Regions from separate parts of the Homo sapiens genome. Here region 1 is linked to region 2. A link means that fine-mapping ties the variant in region 2 to the expression of a gene that starts in the linked region. Tissue or cell type: Th17 cells. Region 2 holds a variant in brackets; the other region holds the start of a gene. All regions are shown on one strand. Distances are from middle to middle.

Region 1 (8,000 bases), 67 kb after region 2:
CACAGTACTCTTTCTCAGTGATCTCTGTCAAACAAGTGGCATCGTCAGAAATAGTGCACTCTGGATTTAACAAAACTTCATAGAAACTAACTGATTTGTCTCTGAATAGCTGGATTTCATGTTAAGTATGTTGTCTTAATCATAACACACCTCTATGGCTCTAATCCTTTGGAAGTGTGACTCACAATAAGATGTGCATGAAGGTTTTACTGGACTTTAACAGGAGTTGAGGCAGGAAACAAAAGTTTTGCATATTCAATGAAATGGCAGCAATATTGGAAATTGAGTTTGGGTATGAAAAACTTGTAATTTGCATCTTTAGTTATTCAAATAATGCATCCATCAGAAAATGGTGACACTTTTCACATAATTTCTGGGCTTTTTCTACAGAAATTAAGTTGAAGGCTAGGCACAGTGGCTCATGCCTGTAATCCCAGCACTTTGGGAGGCTGAGGTGGGTGCATTGCATGAGGCCAGGAGTTCACAACCAGTCTGGCCGACATGGTGAAACCCCATCTCTACTAAAAGTACAAAAATTAACCAGACATGGTGGCACAAGCCTGTAATCCTAGCTACTTGGGAGCCTGAGGCACAAGAATCAGGAGGCGGAGGTTGCAGTGAGCCTAGATCATGCCACTGCACTCCAGCCTGGGTGACAGAGCAAGACCCTGTCTAAAAAAATAAAAATAAAAAAAGTAAAAAATTAACACTAAAACAGTGCATTATATTTGTAATTTCCTGTGGAAGTAAATTGAATTTCCTTATACAAATGCAAATGATGAAAACTATAACGTATTCAATCCTTCCCAGGATTATAGCTACATAAACCCAGGTATAAATTAGTGAATGAAGCTGAGTTCAGTGGCTCATGCCTGTGATCCCAATGCTTTGGGAAGCTAAGGCAGGAGGATCTTTTGAGCCCAGGAGTTTGAGACCAGCCTGGGCAATATGGTGAGACTCCCGTCTCTACCAACAACAACAACAAAAAATAGCTGGGTGTGGTGGTATGTGCCTGTGGTCCCAGCTACTTGGGAGGCTGGGGTTGGGAGGATTGCTTGAGCCCAGGAGGTAGATGCTACAGTGAGCTATGATTGCGCTACTGCACTCCACAGCCTGGGCAGCAGAGTGAGATCCTGTCTCAAATAAAGAAATAAATAAAAAGGAGAAATCAGTGAATGAATTAGCATCATTATATAATAAGTGACTATAAATTAGATCTGTATGTCCATGGTAATAAATAACACAATAATTAAATCATCAGTCTTCTGATGACGAGTACTGGCTCTGGAACCCGATTGCTTGGGTTCCAGTCCTGGCTTTTCAATTTATTAACTGCAGCTCTAGGGCAGGTTTCCTTTTTTTTCTTTTCTTTTTTTTGAAACAGGGTTTCACTCCAACACCCAGGCTAGAGTGTAGTGGTGCAGTCACGGCTCACTGTAGCCTGGACCTCCCTGGGCTCAGGCAATCCTCCCACCTCATCCTCCTGAGTGGCTGGGATTACAGGCACGCACCACCATTCCAGGCTAATTTTTACAATTTTTGTGGAAACAGGGTCTTGCCACGTTGCCTAGGCTGGTCTCAAACTCCTGGGCTCAAGTGATCTGTGTGCCTCTGCCTCCCTCTGTGCCCAGCCTAAGGCAGGTTTCTTAATCTCCCCTAGACTGTTTCTTTAATTGTATACTGGGAAGAGTAATAATAATGCCTCTGGTAGAAGGCTTCTGTCAGAATTTATTGACAAAACCCTTTCAGTGGTTAGCACAGTGACTGGCACATTAAATGTGGCTATTAATTATTGTATATGTATTATTACATATGGATGCTTGTAGCCTATCTCTTGGGTATGAGCCTTGTTTCCACAACTTGATTGCAAGCTTTGAGAGGGCAGGGACCAGCTCACGTAGTCCTCTCATCACCTAGCACAATGTCTTATAAATTTTATAGATCAGTAACGAGATTTAAAACTAAAGGGCAATTTGAGGCTGGATTGATTATAAAGGCCCTTGACTCTCAATTTCCCTAGGCCTGCCCTAAGCCTGTCTCCTACTCCAGTATAGCTGGAGTCCCCTTTGAGCTGTGGCAATGGGAGCTCTTGGCTGCTGCCTACTTGACAGCAGCGAATTCAATCAAATGTTCAGAAAATAGTCAAAGGTCTGAGGCCGTAATGCATGAGAGGTTCCAGACAGTCATGGCATTTAGGAGCTGTTTCTGCTTTTCTTAGGTATTTCTGGCTACTGGGCAGTGTGTAATTTCTTTGTCTCACCTAAGTGAAATAATGTAGAGTATAATTTATGTCCTCTCTCTTTAGCTCCTCATGCCCTGGTGATGAGCTAGCTAGTATTTTCCTTATCAAAGGACCTACTGTCACTGTCTGAACAACTCATCTGCAACAAGCTCGCATTTCACCCATGGTTAACGAACTGATTGGTGTCCTTTAAAAATGCTTTCTAAGTTTTACTCCCTCAATATTTTTTTTTTTACTCAACTGGGCTACTTACAAAAAGAACAAAGTTTAATACTGGTACATATTGAATTCCACCTGCTGTTTGTGAACGCTGAGCACAGCAGCCCTAGGTTTGGCAAGGCTGGATTTCCTTACCCATTGGTGTGACAGTTGCATTGTAATGTGGTATAATCCATAGGTTGAATGCAGGGCTTTGAGAATTTAAAATATTTGCATCTTCACAAGAAATATTTGGAAAGTTTGTATAAGGCCTAGTAAATCCAGTTGTGAGTGAATAGAATTTACCAAACTAAATTCACCTAGCATATGAAAATGTACATAAAACAAAATTAACAGGTAGTTGCTCATACTTAACAAAAAGATATTTAGTGCTTCTCATCACACTCAATTATTTCACATAATATTCTATTGTTTTCTTTCTCCTAAAAAATAATTGTTTTAAGCTCTCAGCTCTTCTCTTTTAATTTGAGCAAACTAAAAATATCTTGAGAATGGCCCATCTCACCTCATCAAAGAAGTTTCCTTTGTATCAAGTTTATTAATTCACTCATCCTTTCCTGATCTTTGATACTGAGACTGCTATAAAAAGGACAATGGATGCTAAAGATAACACGTGAAGTAGGTTTGTTAGACCTTTTTTTTGACCCTTGGTATCTTCAGCTTTCTGAAGGCCAGGTAATGTCTGCATTCTGAATATGTTAGGGGACATATGAATCCATAGGACATATTTTAAGCAGAATTGTATCATTGTTTCCCTTGTTGCTATTTTACTTTCCCAAACCATTGCAGAGCTTTTTGCCAATGACATTTTCTCATCCGCAGCCAGCTCTGCCACTCTTTTGCTATTTCTTCTGTCGACTTCCATTTTAATTTAAAAAATAAATTTATAATTTTTTTAGTTCTGTTTTGTCAATGTATACCTGCAGCCGCACACACATTTGATTATAGCTGCATAGTGTGGAAAATCTTGCAATTAGATTCCAAAATGACAGCCGGTGTAATTTACAAAGTACAAAAGTGTTATGTTAAAGCACTCTCAGCAATAAATAAAAATAGCTTTTTTGGAGGAGGAAATAACTTTGGAGAGAACTAGGCTGGAGGAGGAAGCAATCTACACTCTTAGGAAAGGAAGAGCCACATCTAGGAAAGCATCCGAGGGACAAGGACAACAGAAACACAAGAGGCTCTTGATCTCAGGCAGTCCTCCAAGAGGCACCTGACAGAGGGCAGTTAGGTTGCCTTGATTTGCCAGTTTCTGTCCTGAAAGATACACTGGACCTTTATTTCCCAAGGACTACTCATTCAGCATTGTTGAGCACCTAAATTGTGCTGGAGATCGCACAGGAACTGGGCTTGCGAAAATGAAAATTGCACACAGTTCCTGTCTTCAGGCGCTCACAGAGTTTTTAAAACAGAACATCTTAAGAGGGAGTTATAAGGGGCCCTGTTGCAAAAAGAGAGCAGCAACTAAAATCTTGGAAAAGCCCTCAGGACACCACAGAGGAAGCAAGCTGTGATCACAGAACTTTGAAAGGCTTTTGTATCTTTCGACAATAAATGATCAAGTGAAGTAAATACATTGTCCAGAAGAGAAAGAATTGGGATGGAGGATGAGATTTTATATGGAAGGATTAAAACATATTTAACTGGAGCAGGGACTTACAGGGACAGGCAAGTCAGTAAAGGGCCCAGGTTACAAACGAGTTATAACCGATCAGACCGACGAGCGCCCGCGTGCAGCGCCTCCTGCCGACGCGCGCCTCGCAGCCTTCAGTCAATGCTGACAGCTGTTCTCCAACACCCAGCTAGGGGCGGGAGGGTCCGCCCACTTCTACCAGATTTTGCACACAAAACAGTGGAAAGACCATTCTCATGGCTCCAAGCCGTTTTCTCCCTTCATCGCCTGCAATTTTAGGGCTTTTCGGGGGGTATGACTGCAGGGATTTTAGAGGTTTTTTTCCTCATTCTCTTTTTAAGAGGTGATAAAAAGCATTTAAATTAGCGGCAGGGCGGTTAACACCCGCAGCCCTAGCCTCTCCGCACTTCTCGTCGCTCGTCCGTGTTCACTCCACGCCTGGCCTCGGGTAGGAGCCGCATAGCGCCAACGGTTGCGGGTCGCAACTACTCCCAGGCGGCGCGCCTTGCGCGCCGGGCCTCCCAGGACCGCGGCGAGTTCAGAAGGCGCGGGGAGAGAAGTGAGGTCGAGCAGCGGGCGGCTTTTGACGAACGGCCCTCACAGCCAATGGGAAGCCCGGTCGACTTTCCCGCCCCTGCCAATAGGGAGCAGAACCCGGGCCGGGGGGGGCGCTTCCCGCAGGCTGCGGCTGGATTCGATCCTGCGCGACGGCCGCGAAGGCGGGGGCGGAGGCTCGGCCTGCGCGGCTGGGAGCGGCTTAGGGGAGGAGGGAAGACCGGAAGCCACGGTTGCGTCCCCATCCTTAGATTCGCTCCTCCGGGCAGGGAGCGGAGACGGAGGAGGAGGAGGGAGAGGCTGAATGTTGGCTCGGTAATTGAGAGGAGCGGCCGCTCCAGAGCTTCCTCCCGGGGCGCCCCCCTCAGTCCGTCCGCGCTTCTCAGCCGCCAGTCTCCTGGCCGCGCAGTCCCCGCGGACGGCCGGGCCGCGGAGACCCTCGCAGAAGAGGCGCTGCCGGCGGCGAGGACTGGCCGGCGGCATCCGAGGCGCGCGCCCCACCGCCACCCCCACCCGCCTGCCAGCCGGTCCCTCCGGCCGCCGCCATGTCCTCCTCCTCTTCCTCCCCCAGGGAGACGTACGAGGAGGACCGGGAGTACGAGAGCCAGGCCAAGCGTCTCAAGACCGAGGAGGGGGAGATCGACTACTCGGCCGAGGAAGGCGAGAACCGCCGGGAAGCGACGCCCCGGGGCGGGGGCGATGGCGGCGGCGGCGGCCGGAGCTTCTCTCAGCCGGTAACAAAGCGCGGCCCCCCTGTCCGCTGTGCCTGGCTGCTCCCCGGGAAGCAGGGCCTCGGTGCGGGGCCTCCCGCTTGCTTCAGTTAGCCTTTTCCGCTGCGCCGACCCGTTTGGGGAAGCGCCCACTCTTCTCTTTGGGGCTCGTATTCTGGCCTCTACCTGTTTCCCGCATCCCGACTGCGAACCCGGCGCCGTCCTGGCCGCAGGCCCCGCAGCGAGTCCACTGCCGGGCCCTGAACTTGGGGAGGGTCGCGGCGCGGCGGCGGCGGCGGGGAGGCGTCGCTTCCGCTCTGGGGGGTTTCGCGGCTCGGGGAGCTCTTTGTTAGTTTAACTCCTCGGGCTCGGGGCCAGCGTCGGGACCACCGGTTCTCTTCAGTCCCTCTGCCCGCAGCAGCCGCGCGTTGGTCACCATCCCGGGATGGTTGCGTCGGTTCTACCGGGAGCTCTCTCCGCCTCGGTCCTATGGAGACCCGTAATTAAATAACAGATTATGCCTTGGCGTTCACATGCTAGTTCCCTTGAAGGTTTAATTTAAAAAATTTTAAAATTAAACTCTTTATAAGCATGGCGTGCATCCTTTGCTCTACCCAATTTTGTGGATTACTCAGTACACTTTTTACCTCTTCGGTTACAACACTTCAACAGAAGTGTTGGCAGCTGTTGGTACACCCCTACCTTCAAGTAAAACAAATCTTAAAATTACTAAAGTTTTTCATTGGTAATTTATTCCACATTTGCCCCATGAAAGGATGAAGTGAGCTCAGGGTTGCATTAAACACACATTCCTAGAGCCAGGTCTTTCTCTTACCAGAAATGTTAGGGGGAGGCAGAAGGAATGTGATCATTTTGTCCACAGCAAGTAGTTAGCTTCAGTTGGATGGAGACTTTAAGGAAACAAAGCGGAGCAAACGTTATTGCCCTTTTTTGGTGCACTTAAGCGGTTTTAATGACTTAGATGTTATTTAAACATTTAACACATGAATTGTGATTAATTCTGCAAACTTTAACAGAATTACGAAACTGTACACATATATCCTACTATTAGGTTAAAAGGGTTTTTACCTTACCTTTTAAAAATAAGACGCACATTAGAAGCCCTTTATAGCCGTTTGAATTTTTAAATAATAAAAAAAAAGGCTGGTCAGTCACCCAGCGTTGCAGTTTCCAGTTACCAGGATGTGAGAGCAAACTTTGCAACACATTTAAAAAAGGAACTTTTTCTCTCAGTCTTGTTACGGTGTTAGCTATTACTTTAGATTTTTGTGCCGAGCTATTTGAAATATTCAAAATGTAACTTGGAAGTGTGAATAAAGGAAATGGTTTTTTCTTAGGAAGTTTCAGTTCAAAGCCAACTCTGTTGTGGAAATTGGAAACAGGAATATTATAACTGATATTTCGATGTATTCGATCAGTGTACCTCGTTGCTAGAAATCTTGCTTGGGTTTTTGTGCAGCATCATGAAATGTCTTCAGGCATTTTGGAAAGATACTTAAATCAGATTATAAAAATTTGTTTTTGAAAACAGATAAAGCATTAAATCAATAGTATTATTTTGGATGTTGGGAAGAAAATAACATATAATTAATGTATCCAAAGCGAAATGTGTGGAGCGGTGGAAATGGCACTGAGTAGGGCTTGGGGGTGGTCAAGAGTCTAGGCTTAGCATACAATTTTTTTTTTTTTTTGAGAGGATCTCACTCTATGGCCCGGGGCTGGAGTGCAGCAGCTCTGGAGTGCAGCAGCTCGTGATCACGGCTCACTGCAGCCTTGATCTCCCTGTCTCAAGCGATCCTCCTACCTCAGCCTCCCGGGTTGCTGGGACTGGAAGCCTGCATCACCACGCCGGGCCAATTTTTTTTTTCTGTGTTTTGTAGAGAAGGGGTTTCACCATATTGCCAAAGCTAGTCTCTTAACTCCTGGGCTCAAGAGATCCACCTGAGTTGGCCTCCCAAAGTGCTGGGATTACAGCCGTGAGCCACCGCACCTGGTCTTAGCATACAATTTGTGTGAGTCTGAGAAAGTCAGTTTACTACTCTGAGTTCTCTTAGTCTGTAAAATATGAAGGTTGAAACACATGCCTTTTTTAACCGAAGCTATAGTTAAGTGATTAACGTAATGCTAATGCTGCTTTTAAGTTACCCCGGCGGGAACTGATATAAGCAGATTGAGGTATAAATTTTAATTTTTTTGTTTATCTTACTGCTGATATGTTTCCTAGGAAAGGGTGAATTGTTTTCATTTAACAGTAAAACCATCATTGTACTATGAAATCTAATGAAGCCTTGTTTATCTTGTTTTTAAATATTTTTCATGTAATTTTTGGTACTATTTTGAAATCATGGCAACTATGGAAACCTGTACATAATAAAATTCTATTATTAGGATAGACGTTCCCCGGATAGAAGTTTACTGTCTTGTGCTTCTTCGTTCACATGTTTGGTAATTCATTGTAACCGAAAAGGGTTTTGCACAACTTCAGTGGTCCTTCAGCCCAGAGAAGAAATACCTTTGTGGTCAGACTGTTAAAGTAAATGCAGGTTAGGTACAATGATGGCATTCTTTTCAACTCTAGTTGGAAGTTTGTAAAGTGCAAAGTAAGCCTTTGAAGATT
Region 2 (8,262 bases):
AGGTTTGCCAGAGGAAATATAGAATGCTTGGTTAAATGTGAGTTTCAAATAAACAACAAATAATTGCTTAGTATAAGTTTGTTCATGTTATTATTATACATGGGACATACTTATACTTTAAAAGTTGTGTCCAGGCGCGGTGGCTCACGCCTGTAATCCCAGCACTTTGGCAGGCTGAGAAGGGTGGATCACGAGGTCAAGAGATTGAGACCATCCTGGCCAACACGGTGAAACCCCGTCTCCACTAAAAATACAAAAATTAGCTGGGTGTCGTGGCCTGTGCCTGTAGTCCCAGCTACTTGGGAGGCTGAGGCAGGAGAATCGCTTGAACCCAGGAGGCAGAGGTTGCAGTGAGCCAAGATCATGCCATTGCACTCCAGCCTGGCGACAGAGCGAGACTGTCTCAAAAAAAAAAAAAAAAAAAGTATAAGCTGTTTATTTGAAATCCACATTTAACCAGGCATCCTGTACTTTTATTTGTGAAGTCTAGCAACCTAAACAAGGACTAAAACACAAAAGCCTTCCTTCACCTCTCCACTCCCCTCCTTTCCAATGGTAACCACTATTAACAGTCTGGCACGTACACTTCATTTAAAAATTTGAATTAACTACATATTAGCAAATATATAAATACACAAACACACATATTCCATATAAAGAGAATCATACTACATAGAGTATCACACTATAATCGTACATTGTTCTGCAACTTTTCATTTATCAAATATCTTCAGATTGCTCCATGTCATGACATATCTACCATATTCCTTTTTATTTTTTTTTGAGTTCCCTTTTTTTTTTTTTTTGAGACGGAGTCTCGCTCTGTCGCCCAGGCTGGAGTACAGTGGCACGATCTCAACTCACTGTAAGCTCCGCCTCCCAGGTTCACGCCATTCTCCTGCCTCAGCCTCCCGAGTAGCTGGGACTACAGGCACCCGCCACCATGCCCGGCTTATTTTTTGTATTTTTAGTAGAGACGGGGTTTCACCGTGTTAGCCAGGATGGTCTCGATCTCCTGACCTTGTAATCCACCCGCCCCGGCCCCATATTACTTTTGATGGCTACATGGTATAATAATCAGCATAAACTGTTTGGGGCCTTTTTAGGGGAGGGGCTGTAAAAAGCAAAGTAGCGTCCTCATACTTACAACTTTGGGCGTGGGCATATTATGGTACTTTTCTTCTCTTTAAATTCCTCTGTGCTTACTTTACGATGGAAAAGATTAAGGTCTGGAGATTGTTTTCTGTATTATTACCAAGATTACTTTCCACTCTAGTTTTCACTTAGATGTCCTCTGAATTCCATTCCCTTTTCCCGTGGTACTCTGTATCTGTCATGTCTACTTCAGATCAGCAGAGAATGCAATTCAAGCATATGAACTATTTTTTCAAGGGATGGAGAGGCTCTCAGGATACAGACCCTGAGCTGATTAGGCCAGTTACAGGTCACAGGTTTCCATTACCCAACTGGTTGGGTACAAATTAAACATTAATCCTTCTCTTCCAGGCCTTTCCTGGTTTGCTTCTTTGCTAATCTGCAGGTGCATCAGAGTGTTGCCCATTGACTATCATAATAGCTAACACTTACTGAGTGTTGTGTTTTTTTTGAGACGGAGTTTTGCTCTTATAGCCTGGGCTGGAGTGCAGTGTGCGGTCTTGGCTCACTGCAACGTCCGCCTCCTGGATTCAAGCAGTTCTCCTGCCTCAGCCTTCCAAGTAGCTGGGATTACAGGTGCCCGCCACCAAGCCCAGCTAAATTTTTTTTTTTTTTTAATAGAGATGGGTTTTCACCATGTTGGCCAGGCTGGTCTCAAACTCCTGACCTCAGGTGATCCACCTGCCTTGGCCTCCCAAAGTGTGTCCCAGCCACTTTCTAAGTGCTCTACATTTACTTCATTTCATACTCAGAACGTTTCTATGATGTAGACACTATTACTATCCCAATTTACAGATGTGGAAACTGAGGACAGAAAAGTTAAATAACTTGCCCCAAAACACACAGCTAAGTAGTGGCAGAACCAAGACTTGAATCCAGACAGTCTAGCTCATGAGTCCATGTTCTTCAGTATCAAATTATGTGAAAAGCGCAGGCTTTCTGGTTATTAACCTTACCTCCATCCCTAGGCACAGGCCAGGCTGATCTCTCTCTCTCCTATTCCCACCTCTCCCCACCTTCTTCTCTTTCTGAAAATAGCTTTAAAAGCCCATACACTGGTTAACCAAAAGGAGTCCCAAAGAGCCAAACAATCTTTCCTTGGTTTTGTTTCATCCGCTTTTCAGAAGCTCAAAAATTATAGAAAAGCAGAATTTTTTTTCTAAAAAACAAGATGTTTGACTGTAGAGATTTTTGAGTCCTACTTTGATTCATTCAACAAGTGAACACTGAGCTCCCGCTCTCTGCCAGAGGCACACTGGGTGTTGGAGACAACCACAAAGCCAACAGCAGGGCTCCTACCACATGGGCTTGCAAGAATTCCCTTACAAGTGACCACTACCCAAAACCAATCACGTCATGAAGATAAGAAGCACTTGCCAGGCCAGTTCCTTGGTTTGGAGGAATAGGGTTTTTTTGTTGTTTTTTTTTTTCCCCATAATTATCAGGGTTTTTTTTGTTTTTGTTTTTGTTTTTTTGAGACAGGGTCTTTCTCTGTCACCTAGGCTGGAGTGCAGTGGTGCCATCACGGCTCATTGCAGCCTTGACCTCCAGGCTCAGGTCCCCACCTCAGCCTCCCAAATAGCTGGGACTACAGGCATGCGCCACCACACCTGGATACTTTTTGTATTTTTTCTAGAGACAGAGTGTCCCTGTGTTGCCCAGGCTGGTCTTGAACTCCTGAGCTCAAGTGATCCTCCCACCTAGGCTTCTCAAAGTGCTGGGATTACAGGTGAGAGCCACTGTGCCCCTGGAGGAATAGTTTTTAAGAATTTAAGCACAGCAGAAATCCTGTCTCTGAAAAACCCTTTAGAACAAATAAATTTTATACTACCTTCAAATGTTACTGATACGCTTTGGCTTTGTGCTCCCACCCAAATCTCATCTCGAATTGTAATCCCACCTGGTGGAGGTAATTGGATCAGGGGGGCGGTTCCCCCATGCTGTTCTTGTGATAGTCAGTGAGTTCTCACGAGAGCTGATGATTTAAAAGTGGCAATTTCCCCTCCTTTCTGTCTCTCTCCTACTGCCGTGTAAGATCTGTCTAGCTTCCTCCTCGCCTCCTGCCATGATTGTAAGTTTCCTGAGGCCTCCCCATCCATGAGGAACTGTGAGTCAACTAAACCTATTTTCTTTATAAATTACCCAGTCTCAGGCAGTTCTTCTATAGCAGTGGACTAATAGTTACTAAGCTTTCACATCAAATCGGAATTACAAAAGTGACAATCCCCAAATCCCGAATAAGGCATGGCTAAAAATTTGTTTTGAAATGCAGAAAATACTATTTTTCATGAAAATGTTCAAAGTTCCTAGGTCAAGCCATGAATATTGATTTAACCAAGTCAATTGCTGAGCTTAGAGTAGAGGAAACGCTTCCCCCTTTCCTGGGCAAGGCACTGGCGAGAATAAATTAATAAATGCTTAATCATGGGATATGGCCCTTTCCACTCCTCTAACAACCCAAGGACCACACTGTGACACCCAATTTGGACAGCCCAAAATTAGCCAGAGTGCACTAAAGTCTGAAATAAAATTACTCACCACTCTCAATCAAAACCCCCATTCACAGAATGACTTATCCTTTGGTTATATGAAGAAAACAATTTAATTAATAAGCACTTTAGTAATCTCAGATAATTTATATACTTTTTAGTGGCTGCTTGCTGTCCTAGTTGAATCTCCATGCCATTTTTTGCAGTGTTAATTAAGTGAAATAAAAAGTTCTAGTAGAGTCAGAGATGGTATTTGGGGGCAAAGGAAAGAAAGGGGATAAAAATGATTAGTTGCTCCCTCTG[A/G]TCAGAGACGTATCAAATATGTGGTCAGATATGGTTAGACACATATCACAGCCCATGGCTCATTAAATCATCACAATCCATTTGTTTCACGTGAGAAAATAGGTCTGGAGAGTTTAAGTAAATTGCCCGGGGTCGCACAGCTTTAAGGAAGGAAGCAGAACTTTAAACCAGGAATTTTCAATGCTCCCACCAGGGTGCTCCTGGGCGTGAGCGACAATAAACTGCAGCCTCTAACCTGATCCTTTTTTTTCCTCATCCCTGCTTCTGAACCCAGGTTTTCTAAAGGCACTAAATTTACTTTTTCTATTTTTTCCTTAATGCCTCTCATGGCAGTTAATAGCCAGGTCTTTGGTGGCAACTGGGGGAAACATGAAAAGGAAGGCGTTTCAATGATTGTATGGGTAGGTTGTTTATACCTGTGGCTTATAAGCAAATATTTTCAGCACAGGCTTTGAAAGAAATCATAATGACTGTAGGTGGGACATGCCGATGAAAAATATTTTTAGGCTGGGCGTGGTGGCTCACACCTGTAATCCCAGCACTTTAGGAGGCTGAGGTAGGTGGATCACTTGAGGTCAGGAGTTTGAGACCAGCCCTGACCAATATGGTGAAACCCCGTCTCTACTAAAAATACAAAAATTAGCCGGGTGTGGTGGTGCCCACCTGTAATTCCAGCTACTTGGGAGGTTAAGGCATGAGAATCGCTTGAACCCAGGAGGTGGAGGCTGCAGTGAGCCGAGATAGCGCCACTGCACTAAAAAAAAAAAAAAAAAGAAAAACTTTTTTTTTCTTCTTTTGAGATGAAGTCTTGCTTTGTCACCAGGCTGGAGTGCAGTAGCACAATCTCGGCTCACTGCAACCTCCACCACCCAGGTTTAAGTGATTCTCCTGCCTCAGCCTCCTGAATAGCTGGGATTACAGGCATGCGCCACCATGCCCAGCTAATTTTTGTATTTTTAGTAGAGATGGGTTTCACCATGTCGGCCAGGATGGTCACTGTCTCTTGACCTTGTGATCCACCCACCCAGAGTGCTGGGATTACAGGCGTGAGCCACCGTGCCCGGCAAAAAACATTTTTAAATACAAAAAAAGGTTGAAAAACTCATAGGAGGCATTACTGATTTTTCTAGGCTGTTGTAGCAGGACGAGCCGCAGACAAAACTCCTTAGACACCGGATTGAAGAAGGCAGACTTGCGTCTCAAAAGCCGAGCTCACCGCGTGAGCAATTCCCGTCCCTTTTAAGGGCTTACGACTCTAAGGGGGTCTGCGTGAGAGGGTCGTGATCGATTGAGCAAGCCAGGGGTACCTGACTGGGGGCTGCATGCACCGGTAATCAGAACAGAACACAACAGGACAGGGATTTTCACACTGCTTTTCTATAAAATGTCTGGAATCTATAGATAACATAACTGGTTAGGTCAGGGGTCGATCTTTAACTACCAGGCCCATGGCGTAGTGCCGGGCTGTCTGCCTGTGGATTTCGTTTCTGCCTTTTAGTTTTTACTTCTTTCTTTGGAGGCAGAAATTGGGCATAAGGCAATATGAGGGGTGGTCTCCTCTCTTACTGTAACTAAAAATTTATATAATTTTCTTCTTTAGAATTCTATGAAAGAAAAAAATCCCATTTTCCCAGGGAGAAACTGAACCATTCTGACCTCTGGTTATGGCTGTCATCCAAACAGTTTATATAACCTGTCTGGGAAATTGAAGATTGTTCATATCTAACTCTGCAGTTACAAAAGGACCATGTCTCATGGAATTATCCACGCTCAGATCTTCCGCATGGCTCAAAACCATTTTTGGGATATGGTAATGTCAAGATAACCCCTTATTCTGTCAAGTATTTAAAAAAATTTTTTTTAAATTTAAATTTATTTATTTATTTATTTATTTTTATTTATTTTAGAGACAGGGTCTCACTATGTTGCTCAGGCTGGTCTCAAACTCCTGGCCTCAAGCGATCCTCCCACTTTGGACTCCTAGGATTACAGGTGTGAGCCACCATGCCGGCCTCTGTCAAGTCTTATTACTTTAAATTATTTACCTCTGTTTGTTTATATATACTTACATACTCTGATGGTTTAAAAGAATATGCAGTGAAAATTAAGTCTCCTTCCCATCCTCTGCACCCTGGGCACCCAGGATCCTTTCTTAACAACCACTGTTACCAGTTTATTGTTAACATAGGTTTTAATGCACTAGAAATGTAGTATCAGAGCACCATCAAAATAGTAACAGAGTGTTGTATATCTCCCCTGTAAGAGTCACAGCCCACACCTCTACAACAAACACAGGGTAACAAGAGAAAAGCAAAACAGCTGGGCACAGTGGCTCATGTCTGTAATCCCAGCACTTTGGGAGGCTGAAGTGGGAGGATTGCTTGAGGCCAGTAGTTCGAGGCTGCAAGTCAGCTATAATTGCACTACTCCACTCTAGCCTGGGTGACAGAGCGAGACTCCACCTCTAAAAAATAAAAAATACATAAAAAAGCCAAACAAATTTATTTGATTATAGTTTTATGTGACACGGGAGCTTTCAGAATGAAGACCGACAGATACAAGGAAAACAATCCATTTCTATGCTTAGGTCCAATGGAACATGGACAGCCATGTAGAAATATGATTGGACCAAAAGGGTAAGATCTGTTGCTAATAGAGTGAGTGGGGAAACTCGGCAAGGCCTGTGTTCAGATTTTTCTTGGCCTCCCCATGCAGCATTTCTTCCTCCGGGTATGGGGCAGGACCCCTCTGGAATGAGGGTCTTAATTTCTTTATGGTCAGCTGTTACACAGAAAGGCAGAGGGAAAGGTTAGAGTATATTTTTATTTTTTTGAGATGGGGTCTCACTCTGTCGCCCAGGCTGGAGTGCAGTGGCGCAATCTCGGCTCACTGCAACTTCCGCCTCCCAGATTCAAGTGATTCTCCTGCCTCAGCCTCCCAAGTAGCTGGGATTACAGGTGCCCGCCAGCAGCCTGGCCAACATGGTGAAACCCCATCTCTACCAAAAACACAAAAAAATTAGCCGGGCATGGTGGTGTTCAACAGAAAGCTGAGTTTTGTTTTTTTCCCTGAGGAATTGAAATTTGCTCTCTGTTTTTTAAGATAGAGTTTCGCTCTGCCACCCACGCTGGAGTGCAGTGGCGCAATCTTGGCTCACTGCAACCTCCGCCTCCTGGGTTCAAGCTATTCTCCTGCCTCAGCCTCCTGACTAGCTGGGATTACAGGCACGTGCCACCATGCTCAGCTAATTTTTTTGTATTTTTAGTAGAGACAGGGTTTCACCATGCTGGCCAGGCTGGTCTGGCCAACATGTAACCATGAGCCAAGTTACATATCTTACGTATCGGAAGAACCAAACAGACAGAATGACACACCAAAAGGAAAACCTCAAACCTCCTCTCCAGCAGAATTTGTCTACGCCCCAACCACTGAGCAGAGAGTATTAACTCTCAGTTTCCCTTTGCCAGCTTTATTTCACACCTCATTTTCTGTCTAGTTACACCATGGTGCTAAGAGAGCATGATGTACATTTTCCTTTGCTGCAATCAAGCTGCAATTGTCATTCTTTATTTATGCAATTACTGAGTTAAAGTCTATCTCCCCAGCCAAACCGCAAGAGTGGGGACCTTGTCTGTCCTGTTTAATGAGGTCATCGGATTAATAGAGTTGTCAAATGTATTAATTAATGCCTGATCCTAATTGCCCATGGATTCTGGGATAAAAGTCCATCCTAGTTGGTAGGAGACCTGATCTCTGAGAAGACACTGAGTTGGTCTTCTCTATTTTGTTCCTAAATGGTTATTGGGTAGCTGGTGTACTAGGCAACCACTGAGCTTAGTGGAGCATTTCTGAGACAACCAGGCCTCAAAGAGAATCTGATCAAGGAAGAAGGAAGTAGAAGAGGCAAGTATTTGAATTTCCTTCTTCAGAAGGGAAGAAGTGGGAGCCACACCCCCTCTTGCCTGCTCTTTCCTCTCCAGCCTTCTCCAGGTATCAGGCAGTTCAAAGATTAGGCAGTTCAAAGATCGCTCCAGGATCGCTGAAGTGTATCATACCATCAGCTGACCTTTTACGTTAACTGGGGCAAAGCCTGAACGGATAACCAGAGGCCAACTGCCATAGTTTATTTATTACAGTTTTTCCCAAATGCTGGATGGCCACACGGCCCTCTATGATGCATGCGCTTGCAAGTCAGACGGTCCCAAGCTAGGCGACTTTCCCCCTTGGTCCCTCGCATTGCAAGTGGCCCGCTAGATCCGGGAGGTATGTAGCGTGGGCCTGGGGCCTGCTCGCAGCCCAGGGCACAGTTCAACCC

Alleles and levels. Alleles are on the strand shown, and positions count from the first base shown. SD is a standard deviation of normalised expression in the study named.
For the expression in Th17 cells of the gene that starts at base 4,896 in region 1, G is the low allele of the variant in region 2 and A is the other (moderate effect, 0.72 SD a copy in Schmiedel 2018).

What was found. PIP is the estimated chance that this variant, and not a neighbour inherited with it, causes the effect.
Region 1: HNRNPLL starts here. The variant in region 2 is fine-mapped to the expression of HNRNPLL in Th17 cells (Schmiedel 2018, PIP 0.95).

The regions. Positions count from the first base shown.
Region 1 is chr2:38,599,824-38,607,823 of GRCh38, reverse strand. It overlaps HNRNPLL (heterogeneous nuclear ribonucleoprotein L like), which reads left to right and starts at 4,896. Exons shown (of 13, transcript NM_138394.4): 1 at 4,896-5,386. The coding sequence starts at 5,198. RefSeq lists silencers at 4,717-4,786, 5,007-5,056, 5,077-5,176.
Region 2 is chr2:38,666,354-38,674,615 of GRCh38, reverse strand. All of the region lies in intron 1 of GALM (galactose mutarotase), which reads right to left. Among named protein-coding and RNA genes, the nearest start is that of GALM, 4.4 kb to the right of the region's middle. RefSeq lists enhancers at 7,725-8,237, 8,238-8,262. The variant A/G (reference allele first, on the strand shown) is at 3,948.